Regions from separate parts of the Homo sapiens genome. Here region 1 is linked to region 2. The links come from fine-mapping of genetic effects on gene expression. A gene starts in region 2. The other region holds a variant in brackets. All regions are shown on one strand. Distances are from middle to middle.

The links. PIP is the estimated chance that this variant, and not a neighbour inherited with it, causes the effect.
Region 1: its variant is the best candidate, but not a certain one, in a credible set for the expression of CYB5R1 in whole blood (TOPMed, PIP 0.75).

Annotation. Positions count from the first base shown.
Region 1 is chr1:202,819,728-202,825,099 of GRCh38, reverse strand. All of the region lies in intron 2 of LOC124904583, which reads left to right. It also overlaps the pseudogene MGAT4EP. Among named protein-coding and RNA genes, the nearest start is that of PCAT6, 11 kb to the right of the region's middle. The variant C/T (reference allele first, on the strand shown) is at 3,061.
Region 2 is chr1:202,964,140-202,969,511 of GRCh38, reverse strand. It overlaps CYB5R1 (cytochrome b5 reductase 1), which reads left to right and starts at 2,255. Exons shown (of 9, transcript NM_016243.3): 1 at 2,255-2,321; 2 at 2,614-2,763; 3 at 2,912-2,984; 4 at 3,519-3,625; 5 at 4,012-4,141; 6 at 4,817-4,900. The coding sequence starts at 2,307. RefSeq lists silencers at 1,157-1,451, 2,068-2,227, 2,298-2,347.

The sequences.
Region 1 (5,372 bases), 140 kb after region 2:
GGACCTTCACTCTTCCTTCCTCCCTCTTATTTCCCACCTGTTTTTCCCTTGGTGGAGGGGATGTTTACATCCTTGCTGCTCGAAGTGTGGTCCTTAGTCCAGCAACATCAGGCTGCTCTGTAAGCTCATTTCAAATACAGGATCTCGATCCCTATCTCAGATTTAATCAGAAGCTGCATTTTCACAGTATCACCAGGTAACTTGTATGCACAGTAAAGTTTGAGAAGTACTAAGCTAGGTGATGCTGAGTGTCTGTGGGTTCTGCTCAGTCTTCTTTGAGCCTAGAACTTTGTGGCGTATGGTTTAGGGGCTCAATAAATGTTAGCTATTATAATAGTTATAATTGTTGTCAATTATATTATTATATTGTTGTCAATTGTTGTCGTCTTCCCAAAGCTGCCCTTTGAAGGAGGTATATTAGGAAAAGGACTTCCCCTGGAAGTCAGGAGCCTGGAGTTTTTGTCCCAGTTCTGCCACTGATTGTGTGATCTTGAGCAAGTCCCTTCAGCCCTGAGTTTAGTTCCTGATCCATAAACTGGGGGAGTTGGACTATGCGACTCTAAGACCCCTTCTGATCCAAATGTTCTCTAATCTAGTGATTCCACCTTCTTATAGCAATTAACTTTAGTAACTGGCCAAGAAGGGAAAAAAAGAAAAGTAGTAGCCAACTTTATCTTTTTCCTCCTTCCTCCTCATACTGCTGATATATAAATATTTGCCTTGGGGAAGGAGGAGAGAATTAACTGCCAGATTCTTTTTTTTTTTTTTTTTTGAGAAGGAGTCTCACTCTGTTGCCCAGGCTGGAGTGCAATGGTGCGATCTTGGCTTACTGCTACCACCGCCTCCCAGGTTCAAGCGATTCTCCTGCCTCAGCTTCCTGAGTAGCTGGGATTACAGATGTCCCCCACTGTGCCCAGCTAATTTTTGTATTTTTAGTAGAGATGGGATTTCACCATCTTGGCCAGGCTGGTCTCGAACTCCTGACTTCGTGATCCACCCACCTAGGCCTCCCAAAGTGCTGGGATTACAGGCATGAGCCACCACACTTGGCCATTGTCTGCCGGATTCTAATATTCCTGGGCACAGTCTGTTTTTCTCCTTCCCTCTTCTGCTTTCCTTCCTATCTGCCTGATCTCTCTGGCTGTCCCTACTTCCCCTGGGATGCTGAATTCCTCCTTCTTGTTGGTACTCACTCTTTCTTCTCTTCTGGATTTTTTCCATATATTTGAAGGTGAGGTTCTGCCAGTCTTCTAGTGATCTTGGGTCCTTCCGGCTGTTATAACTGGCCTCCGGGGGCATTGACAAGGGCAAACATATATATCCTTTCATAAAAAGAACAAATTTTACACCCCAGTGGCTTCCCATAAGCTTTTCTAGGGAAAGAGGTGGAGTGAACCATTCTCCCTAGAGTGAGCCTGGCACATTCTCAGGATGCCTGGCCATTGGCTAAAATATCCAGGGCTCAAGCAGTATTTGCTGTCTTCTTTACCTTAACGAATAAGGAAAATAAATACAGCTTCTTCATGGACTAATAGGCCCAGGTCCATACCCCCATTCCCTTTGGAGCTTCCTGCTCTCAGGTGAAAAGGTCAGGAAGGAAGAAAGCCCAGGGGCTTTCCAGAATCTGCCTGTCCACACCATTTCCACCCTATATTCCCAGTTCCCAAACTGAGCAAGGCTCAAGGCTTGCTACTTGGCCTTTGACAGTCATCACATTTTGATCATCTTCAGTTTCCTTGGGGATTTTCAAAGTGATGAAGGGCCACAGGAATACGATGCCCACTGAGAGTATGAAGCATTTCCTGATGGAACACCGCATCGCGTCTGCGTCAGGATACGGTTCCTATAGCAAGAAGTCAACGTGTACAGCTGGAGGACTCTCTCCCTCCAGTCCATGCCTAGAACTTCCCTTCTGCCCTCTGGAAGGCTTCTCCACTTGTATTAACCACCCCATGTCTGCCCCCATATTCTATCTTTCCTCATTGTTAACTTATTTCCAAGATCTCAGTTCCCTATGACCTCCGCCTCCTGGGTTCAAGCGATTCTCCCGCCTCAGCCTCCCGAGTAGCTGGGATTACAGGCACGCACCACTGCGCCTGGCTAATTTTTGTATTTTTAGTAGAGACGGGGTTTTACCATGTTGGCCAGGCTGGTCTCGAACTCCTGACCTCAAGTGATCTGCCCGCCTCAGCCTCCCAAAGTGCTGGGATTACAGGCATGAACCACTGTGCCTGCCATCCAAGCACACCCTTTTATCTAATCTAGGAACCTGATACAATAGAGCCTTATTCCCTGCTAAAGAAGGAAGATCACATGTCCCGTGATGATATTTGTTGCATTCACTTCATATGCTTGGAGATTCAACTTCCCCAAAGTCTCCCCTACTCAAAATGATGAAGGTTGGCTGAAGCTTTAGTGATACAGTCAATTTTTTTTTTTTGAGACGGAATCTCACTCTGTTGCCCAGGCTGGAGTGCTGTGGCACAGCATCAGCTCACTGCAAGCTCCACCTCCCGGGTTCACGCCATTCTCCTGCCTCAGCCTCCCGAGTAGCTGGGACTACAGGTGCCCACCACCATGCCTGGCTAATTTTTGTATTTTCAGTAGAGACGGAGTTTCACCTTGTTAGCCAGGATGGTCTCGATCTCCTGACCTCATGATCCGCCCGCCTCGGCCTCCCAAAGTGCTGGGTTTACAGACGTGAGCCACCGTGCCTGGCTGATACAGTCAATTTATCTGAGTAAACAGATGGCCATTGTACTTTCCTTACCCCTGCTTTTTTACTTTATTTTTTGAGACAAGGCCTCGCTCTGTTGCTGAGACTGGAGTGCAGTGGCGTGATCATGGCTCACAGCAGCCTTGACCTTTCGGGCTCAAACGATCCTCCCACCTCAGCCTCCCAAGTAGCGGGGATGACAGACGCACACCACCACACCCAGCTAATTAAAAAAAAAAATTTTTTTTTGTAGAGATAGGCTCTCCCTGTGTTGCCCAGGGTCATCTTGAATGCCTGGGGTCACGTGATCTTCCTGTATCAGCCTCTGAAAGTGCTGGGATTAC[C/T]GGCGTGAGCCACCACACCCTGCCTCCCACATTTTTAAAAACCAAATCAAACTATTAAAACAACTAAACCTGAAGTGTTGCCAAATGCCATGCCAAATTGGTGTCTTTCACTTTTTTTCATAAAGAGTATCCTTAATTTATTCACAGACCTTGATTAGAACATGATTCTGTTAACTTAGAGTAAAAAAAAAAAAATCCTTTCCTGCATGTTGGGTTATTGGAATTCAGGCTGGCTCAGCCTCAGAAGTGCTTGTATGCTGCTCTCTTCCTCTGTGAGTGTTTTTTCTCTAGTGAGATGTGTTTCTCTGATTGCTTCAAGATTATCAGAGGAAAGGCTTTAACATGCCTTCTCACCCCTTCTTGATTCTTTCCCTGTGTGATCAGTACACAAAAGAAAAGCTGTAGTCAGTGATTTCTGTGCTCCTGAGGCCATACTGTTCTCTAATCTTCCCCATTCCAGGGATGCCTTCCAGTTTAGTATTTTGGTAGAGGTTAACATGCTTTTCTCCCTTAGCCACTTCGCTTTTTGATGAGTTATAAAAGTAGGCTGGGCACAGTGGCTCACGTCTGGAATCCCAGCTCTTTGGGAGGCTGAGGCAGGAGGATTGCTTGAGCCCAGTAGTACTGAGACCAGCCTGGGCAACACAGGGAGAGCTCCACCTCTGTTTAAGAAAAACAAATAATAACAATAATACTTATATCTCCAGGTAATCACAGTGATGAGGAAAAAAAAATCTTATAGTAGTAAGGCTTTACAGATTAAACTTTTCTTACTTGGCTTCCTTTAGGAAAGACTTTTAGTCCCATAGGTGATTCACATACAAACCTCTTCATGTAAAAGAAATAGGCCTCTCTTCTCTAGACCATAAATGTGTGCGTGTGTGTGTGTGTGTGTGTGTGTGTGTGTGTGTATACACCGCTGGGCATGGTAGCTTACGCCTGTAATCCCAGCACTTTGGGAAGGCGAGGCAGGTGGATCACCTGAGGTCAGGAGTTCGAGACCAGCCTGGCCAACATCACGAAACCCCTTCTCTACTAAAAATACAAGAATTAGCCAGGCATGGTGGCATGTGCCTGTAATCCCAGCTATTCAGGAGGCTGAGGCAGGAGAATCACTTGAACCTGGGAGGCGGAGGTTGCAGTGAGCCGAGATTGTGTTACTGTACTCCAGCCTGGGCAACAGAGCAAGACTCCACCTCAGGGGAAAAAAAAAAGGGGTGGGGGCTTTTGGGCCAGGCGAGGTGGGACTTGGATAAAGATCACCCAGTGAAAGTGTGTGGGCACTCAGGCCTTCAATCCCAGCATTTCAGGAGGCCAAAGCAGGAGGATCACTTGAGGCCAGGAGTTGGAGACCAGCCTGGGCAACATAGTGAGACCCCGTCTCTACAAAAAGTAAAATTAGCCAGGTGTAGTGGCACATGCCTGAAGTCCCAGCTACTCGGGAGGCTGAGGTGGGAGGATCGCCTTAGCCTAGTAGGTCGAGGCTGCAGTGAGCTGAGATTGTGCCACTGCACTCCATCCAACCTAGGGGAGAGTGAGACCCTCTCTGTCTCTCTCTCTCAAAAAAAAAAAAAGGCTTTAGGCAGGGAATAAGGCTCTAATTGCAGTTAAAGGGTTTCACCACCACAGGCATAGCTCTGTTCCCCTTTGGTACCTCCCGTGTAGTTTCCCAGTCACGGAGGGAAGACTGCTGTCATTCAGCCCTTTGAGTTCAACAGACTTCTGGAAAAGGCAGGAGACAGAAAAACAAAAAGGAGCTGGGGTGATAAGGACCAGTCACTCTAGGAGTAATGAACAGAGGGTGAGGCCAGGCACAGCAAACAAAGGTCTCCCCAGTTTTCTATCCTTGAGCTAAGCTCCCTCTGTGATGTTACTGTTGTGTCCTAGCCACCTACTCCCCATTGTCAGAGGAATGCACATGCAGGACTTACATGTGACCTGTTTGTGCTTCATCATTGGGAGCTATGACTTCGCATTCACCCTAAAGACCAGCATCAGTATCTTTTTAGATACTGAGCACTCACCTCCCCACCCGCACCGTGTCCCCTACTTCCTTATGTATCTCCTACATTCTCTCCTTCCCTCCTGTTGGTTCCACTGACGCTTAGGCTCGGACTCCTACTCCCTCTCGCCTTCCCAAGTTCTTCACCCCTGCAGTTATCCTCTTTCTCTTCTGCATGATCCACTTCCTTTCTCTTCTGCGTGATCCACTTCTCCCTTTCTACTGGACGATTCTCATCACTAGGAAAAGGAGGTTTATTATCTTCCAGCAGGAAGAAGGCAAAAAGCAAAATGCCTCCCTGAATTCGTGT
Region 2 (5,372 bases):
GTAATGTAAGATTACCATGAGTCGTGGTGGAGTGGAGTTCAATTCACCACAGAATCTGAGACAGGAAGACCTGCCAGGCCATCAGCCCCTTCCCACCACTCCTGCAGCATTCATTTTCAGGAGCAAAAGAGCCTTCCCACAATTACTGAGTCCAACACTTAGTTTCCAGGATAAGCCCACACCCAACCATTCTGTCCTGTGGTTCCCAGTGATACACTCACACTTGTTAGAATGTGCCACTTTGGGGTTCAGAAAATGCAATCACTGAGAGAAGCCCGAGTTGTAGTTATGCTCTCCTTTCGTTCCATACTTCCCCCTCTCTTGCCACATCTATCCACTAGAGGGAGGAAGGCCTAGAACCTCTTTAGCCAGAGTGGAGCAGTGGCAAGGATCAGTAGTGTGGCTTCTTAACCAAGCCAGCAGTGGGGATGTCAGAAGCACCGGAACATAATCGCCTCATTCTCTCGGAACAGAAAAGAGGAAGGGTCCCTTCCTTCCCCTTTTCAACCCTCTCTGCATGGATTGGCATGTCACCATGATCTGGTGCACTCACTTCCCTCAAGTCAGTGTGCAGGCTGCTTAAAAAATTCAGAGGAACATGTACTGGGGTCTTAGGAACATTTTCAGCCAGTGGAGAGGAAAAGGAAAACTAAGTATCTCTTGGATCATTCACAGAGTTCACCAAATACAACTGAAAACTGGGGGCTCTAATGTCCCTGCTGCCCTGATGGTATTAGTTTAAGATGTTGACACTGACATCTGCAGAGATCTCATCCATCACGGTATATCAAAGAGCAAATGTCATTCTAGTTGAGAAACTCATGTATGAGAAAGAATGGTCATCTTGGGAAATCTGTAGCTCCAGCGGCTCCTGATGTTTTTTCCTGCCTCCTCCTGTCCCATGCTTGTGCCCCAGGCAGAGCTCATTCCTAAAACCATAGCTGACCCTCTGTGCTGTCTTTTAAGTTATAATAGTAGCTGCCAACTGTTGAATATTTTGCTTTATGACAGGCACTACACTAAGCACGTTAACATATCTCACTGAAGCCTCACACCAAAGCTATGAACTAGATACAATCTATCTGTAGATAATAATATATATCCATCTGTAGATATCCATCTTATATCCATCTGTAGATGAAGAAACTCAGGTTGAGTAAGCTATCTAAGGTCACAGAGCCAATAAGTGCTAGAGGCAAGATTCTTATTCTGTACACTCTGCCTCCAAAGCCCACTTCTTTGACCCTAAGGGCACAAGAACCCAAATCAGGATGTGAAGCTTGGTCTTTGAAACCAAAGGAAGCTCCTGAATCATCCTGATAGGCTGACGGCTTGGCGCTGTAAACAAAATCAGTCTTTTGTCAAAAGGAAATGAAGTTGCCATGCCACTGTTCACTCCTGTAAGAGACTCCTCTGGGCTGTTCCATTCTCTTGCTGCAATTCAGCCGGTTGAAAAACTAAGGTGACTGCACAATGATTAACTTCAGGCCCTTCTGCTCTACTTTGAGCCTGTCTCTGGTTCATCGTTACACTCTCCGCTCAGCACCCGCAGACTCAAGAGATTTCCAATCCCCCAATTTAGCGTGGTTCTACCTTAGGCAGAACTCCCATCCAGTTCGGATATAAGCGGGTCGAAGTGGCAGGGACCACCTCGCTGGGAGGAGAGGCTGGAGCTGCGGTCTTAAAAGATCTTGGGGCCGGGCGCGATGGCTCACGCCTGTAATCCCAACACGTTGGGAGGCCGAAGCGGGTAGATTATTTGAGCCCTGGAGCTCGAGACCACCCTGACCAACACGGTGAAACCCAGTCTGTACTAAAAATACAAAAAAAAAATTAGCCGGGCGTGGTGGCGCACGCCAGTAGTCCCAGATACTCGGGAGGCGGAGCCAGGAGAACCACTTGAAACTGGGAGGCGGAGGTTGCAGTAACCGAGATCGCGCCACTGCACTCCAGCCTGGGCGACAGAGCGAGGCTCCGACTCAAAAAAAAAAAAAAAAGTATTGAATAAGCACCGGAGACCCTGAGCCACCGAGTAGCGGAGGGAAAGGGTGGCGCGCAGAGGGGCCCAGCCCCGCCTCTGCCGGACCCCGCCCCCAAAAGGCCCCGCCGCCGCCACCTCCTGCTAGGCCCCGCCCCCGACAGACACCCCCCCCCCCCCCCGCCAGGCCCCGCCTCCTGCCCCCCCAGCCGCGAGGTCCTGCCTCCTGCCCGGCCCCGCCCCCGGCCTGCCCCGCCCTCCGACCCGCCCCGCGGCGCATTGTGGGATCTGTCGGCTTGTCAGGTGGTGGAGGAAAAGGCGCTCCGTCATGGGGATCCAGACGGTAAGACCCTCATTCAGTATCCTCCACTGGGGGACCCCTCCCCATCTGGTTCTGGCCACTCAGCTCCGGACCAGGGGCTGTCGCTGCCGACCCCGCCCCGCAGGGCTCTGGGCCCACCGTGGATGCTGGGGTCCCGATCCCGCACATCCGGGCTCGGGACTCCGCCAGGTTACCCCTCTGCCCTTGGCATGCCTCCGCGCTGGAGCTCGGGATCGCCACCCCTGGGACGGTCACCACCCAAGCCCCGGGCTCTTACCCAGCCTGGCGGTCACGCTGCCTCCTCTACCCACAGAGCCCCGTCCTGCTGGCCTCCCTGGGGGTGGGGCTGGTCACTCTGCTCGGCCTGGCTGTGGGCTCCTACTTGGTTCGGAGGTCCCGCCGGCCTCAGGTCACTCTCCTGGACCCCAATGAAAAGTACCTGCTACGACTGCTAGACAAGACGGTAAGTTGGGGAAGAAAGGGCCAGGGTGAAGGAGGGGACCAGAGTGCTCCTGGCATGGAGGGTACAGCACCCACGGTGGTTGGGATGTCCAAGGGACGTGGCAGCGCCAGGCGCGCTTGGTGAAACACTTGTGTCCTCCACCCTCCAGACTGTGAGCCACAACACCAAGAGGTTCCGCTTTGCCCTGCCCACCGCCCACCACACTCTGGGGCTGCCTGTGGGTAAGGAAAGTGTGGAATGGGCTCCTTTCCCTGGTATCCTCAGAAGGTGACTCCCCTCCTGGGATCTCATGAAACACGCTGCTTCAACCGGTTTGCTCCACACACCATTCCCCTTCCCCCACTTGGCTCTGCATCCTCCAAGCTGTGAGGTGCCACTGGGCCCCTCTAGAGTGTGGCTTCCATGACCCCCATCCAGCTTTAACACTCAACAGTCTTGCCTCTTCCCTGCAGGATTTGCTAATTACTCCCTCTGAGCAAGCACTACTAACTTTTTCCCATTGCCCAGACCCTTTTGGCTCATCTGTCAAGGTCCTGGCAGTAACTGGCAGGAAACGCTGGAAATAAGTGTTTCCTCAACTGGGCGCTTATAAGAGATCCAACTGAGGGCTCAATGGGGCAAATCTTCCCTGCCTTGTAGCTCCTTGGGACCACAGCAGGAAGCAAGACATCTTGTTCTCTCAAATCTCTTTGAGTATTTTGAGGGATGCAGCACATCACAGACAACCCTTATGTAGCTCTCTGCACGGTCCCCAGGCAAACATATCTACCTCTCCACCCGAATTGATGGCAGCCTGGTCATCAGGCCATACACTCCTGTCACCAGTGATGAGGATCAAGGCTATGTGGATCTTGTCATCAAGGTAAGGGGCTAGGAAGGGACCCAGGGGCTGCTTACCCATTCTTTCTGGGATTTGTAGAAATTTCTAAGATTTGCCTGACAGCAGGAAATGGTATGTACTCTGTGGATGTGAAGAAAGTATGAGCTACTCAGGAGACTGAGGCAGGAGACTCACTTGAACCCAGGAGGCGGAGGTTGCAGTGAGCCAAGATTGCGCCACTGCACTCAAGCCTGGGCAGCAAGAGCAAAACTCTGACTCAAAAAAAAAAAAGAAAGAAAGAAAGTATGTAGACGGGGAAAAGATAGCACATATCTGATCCCTGCCCCAGCCTCAGGGAGGTTTAGTCAACATGGGGCTCAGAAACCAGTGACATTCCAAATAAGGTATTTTTCTCTCTGTCTTGTAAGGTCTACCTGAAGGGTGTGCACCCCAAATTTCCTGAGGGAGGGAAGATGTCTCAGTACCTGGATAGCCTGAAGGTTGGGGATGTGGTGGAGTTTCGGGGGCCAAGCGGGTTGCTCACTTACACTGGAAAAGGTAATGACCTGTCTTCTCCTTGAGCCTGTCTCCCACTTTATCAGTTCCCATAGTCCTCTTGGCACAGTATGGCTGTGTGTACACATGTGTATGCACGTAAGGGCCAGGGCCGCCCTTCCTTCTAAACATAGCGCTGATACAATAGAAAGGCATGTTTCTCAGCCCCATTTGCCACAGGAAGCAGTTCCTCCTCCACTTGAATTCCCTAGCCATGGCAGCTGTGGAGATTACTAAAGCAAACATGTGCCCCTCTTCCCCACCTTCAAAAATTTGCCCCCCTGGGTGAGCTGTGGAGTGAGCCAGAGATAGCTTTCAGCCCTTCCCATGGGAACAGCTGGGTGCATTAGCAAGTCCCTGGAGCTGCTGTGTGCCACTTGGGAAAATAGATTCACACCTGGCTCTGTGCCTGTCTCCTTCACCAGGGAGTGACACTTTGCCAGAAGCAGCTGATACATTGTGTGGCGCTGAACTGACTCACAGATAGCCCTGGCCCCATTGTCCCTCAACTATATTATTGTCAGGGCTGGCTCAACTCAAGCTTCCACCCAAGCTCCAGGATCAGATGTCATAGCAGCTGCTCAACTGGCCTCAGGCATATTTTCAACTCTGCATTTGTTTTCTAAGTTCGCTGTATTGACTTTATTCTTCCACTGCTCTCTTCACCTGACCTCTCAGGGCATTTTAACATTCAGCCCAACAAGAAATCTCCACCAGAACCCCGAGTGGCGAAGAAACTGGGAATGATTGCCGGCGGGACAGGTGCATTACACTGAGGGCCTTTCTCTCCCACCATTGTTGACTGTTGCCATGCAAATTCCTAGGTGACCCTCTGAAGACTGGTAACCATAGCCAAGCTGTTGTTCATCAGGGGATTTCCAGCAATGCTTAGAACTCCCTAGTATCTGAAAAACAAAATCATAAGCAGGTAGAAACCAAAAAAAATTTTAACTGATGGAATTAGAGAAACAAATTAAATGAGCTTTCCTCATTTTGAATGGATCTAATAGTTTTAGGTGAGAGAAGAGAGAAGCAGCTAGGAATGACTAGCTAGGAAGAAAGAAAATTAGCATTGGACACTACTGTGCATTAGACACTGTGTAGTCTAATACACTACTATATATTAGACACAAAAATTAGACACATATATAGGTATCTATGAAGTAGGTACTAGCCTTTTCCTTTTACAGAGAGACAATGGGGTTCCAGAGAGGCTAAATGATTTCCACAGGGT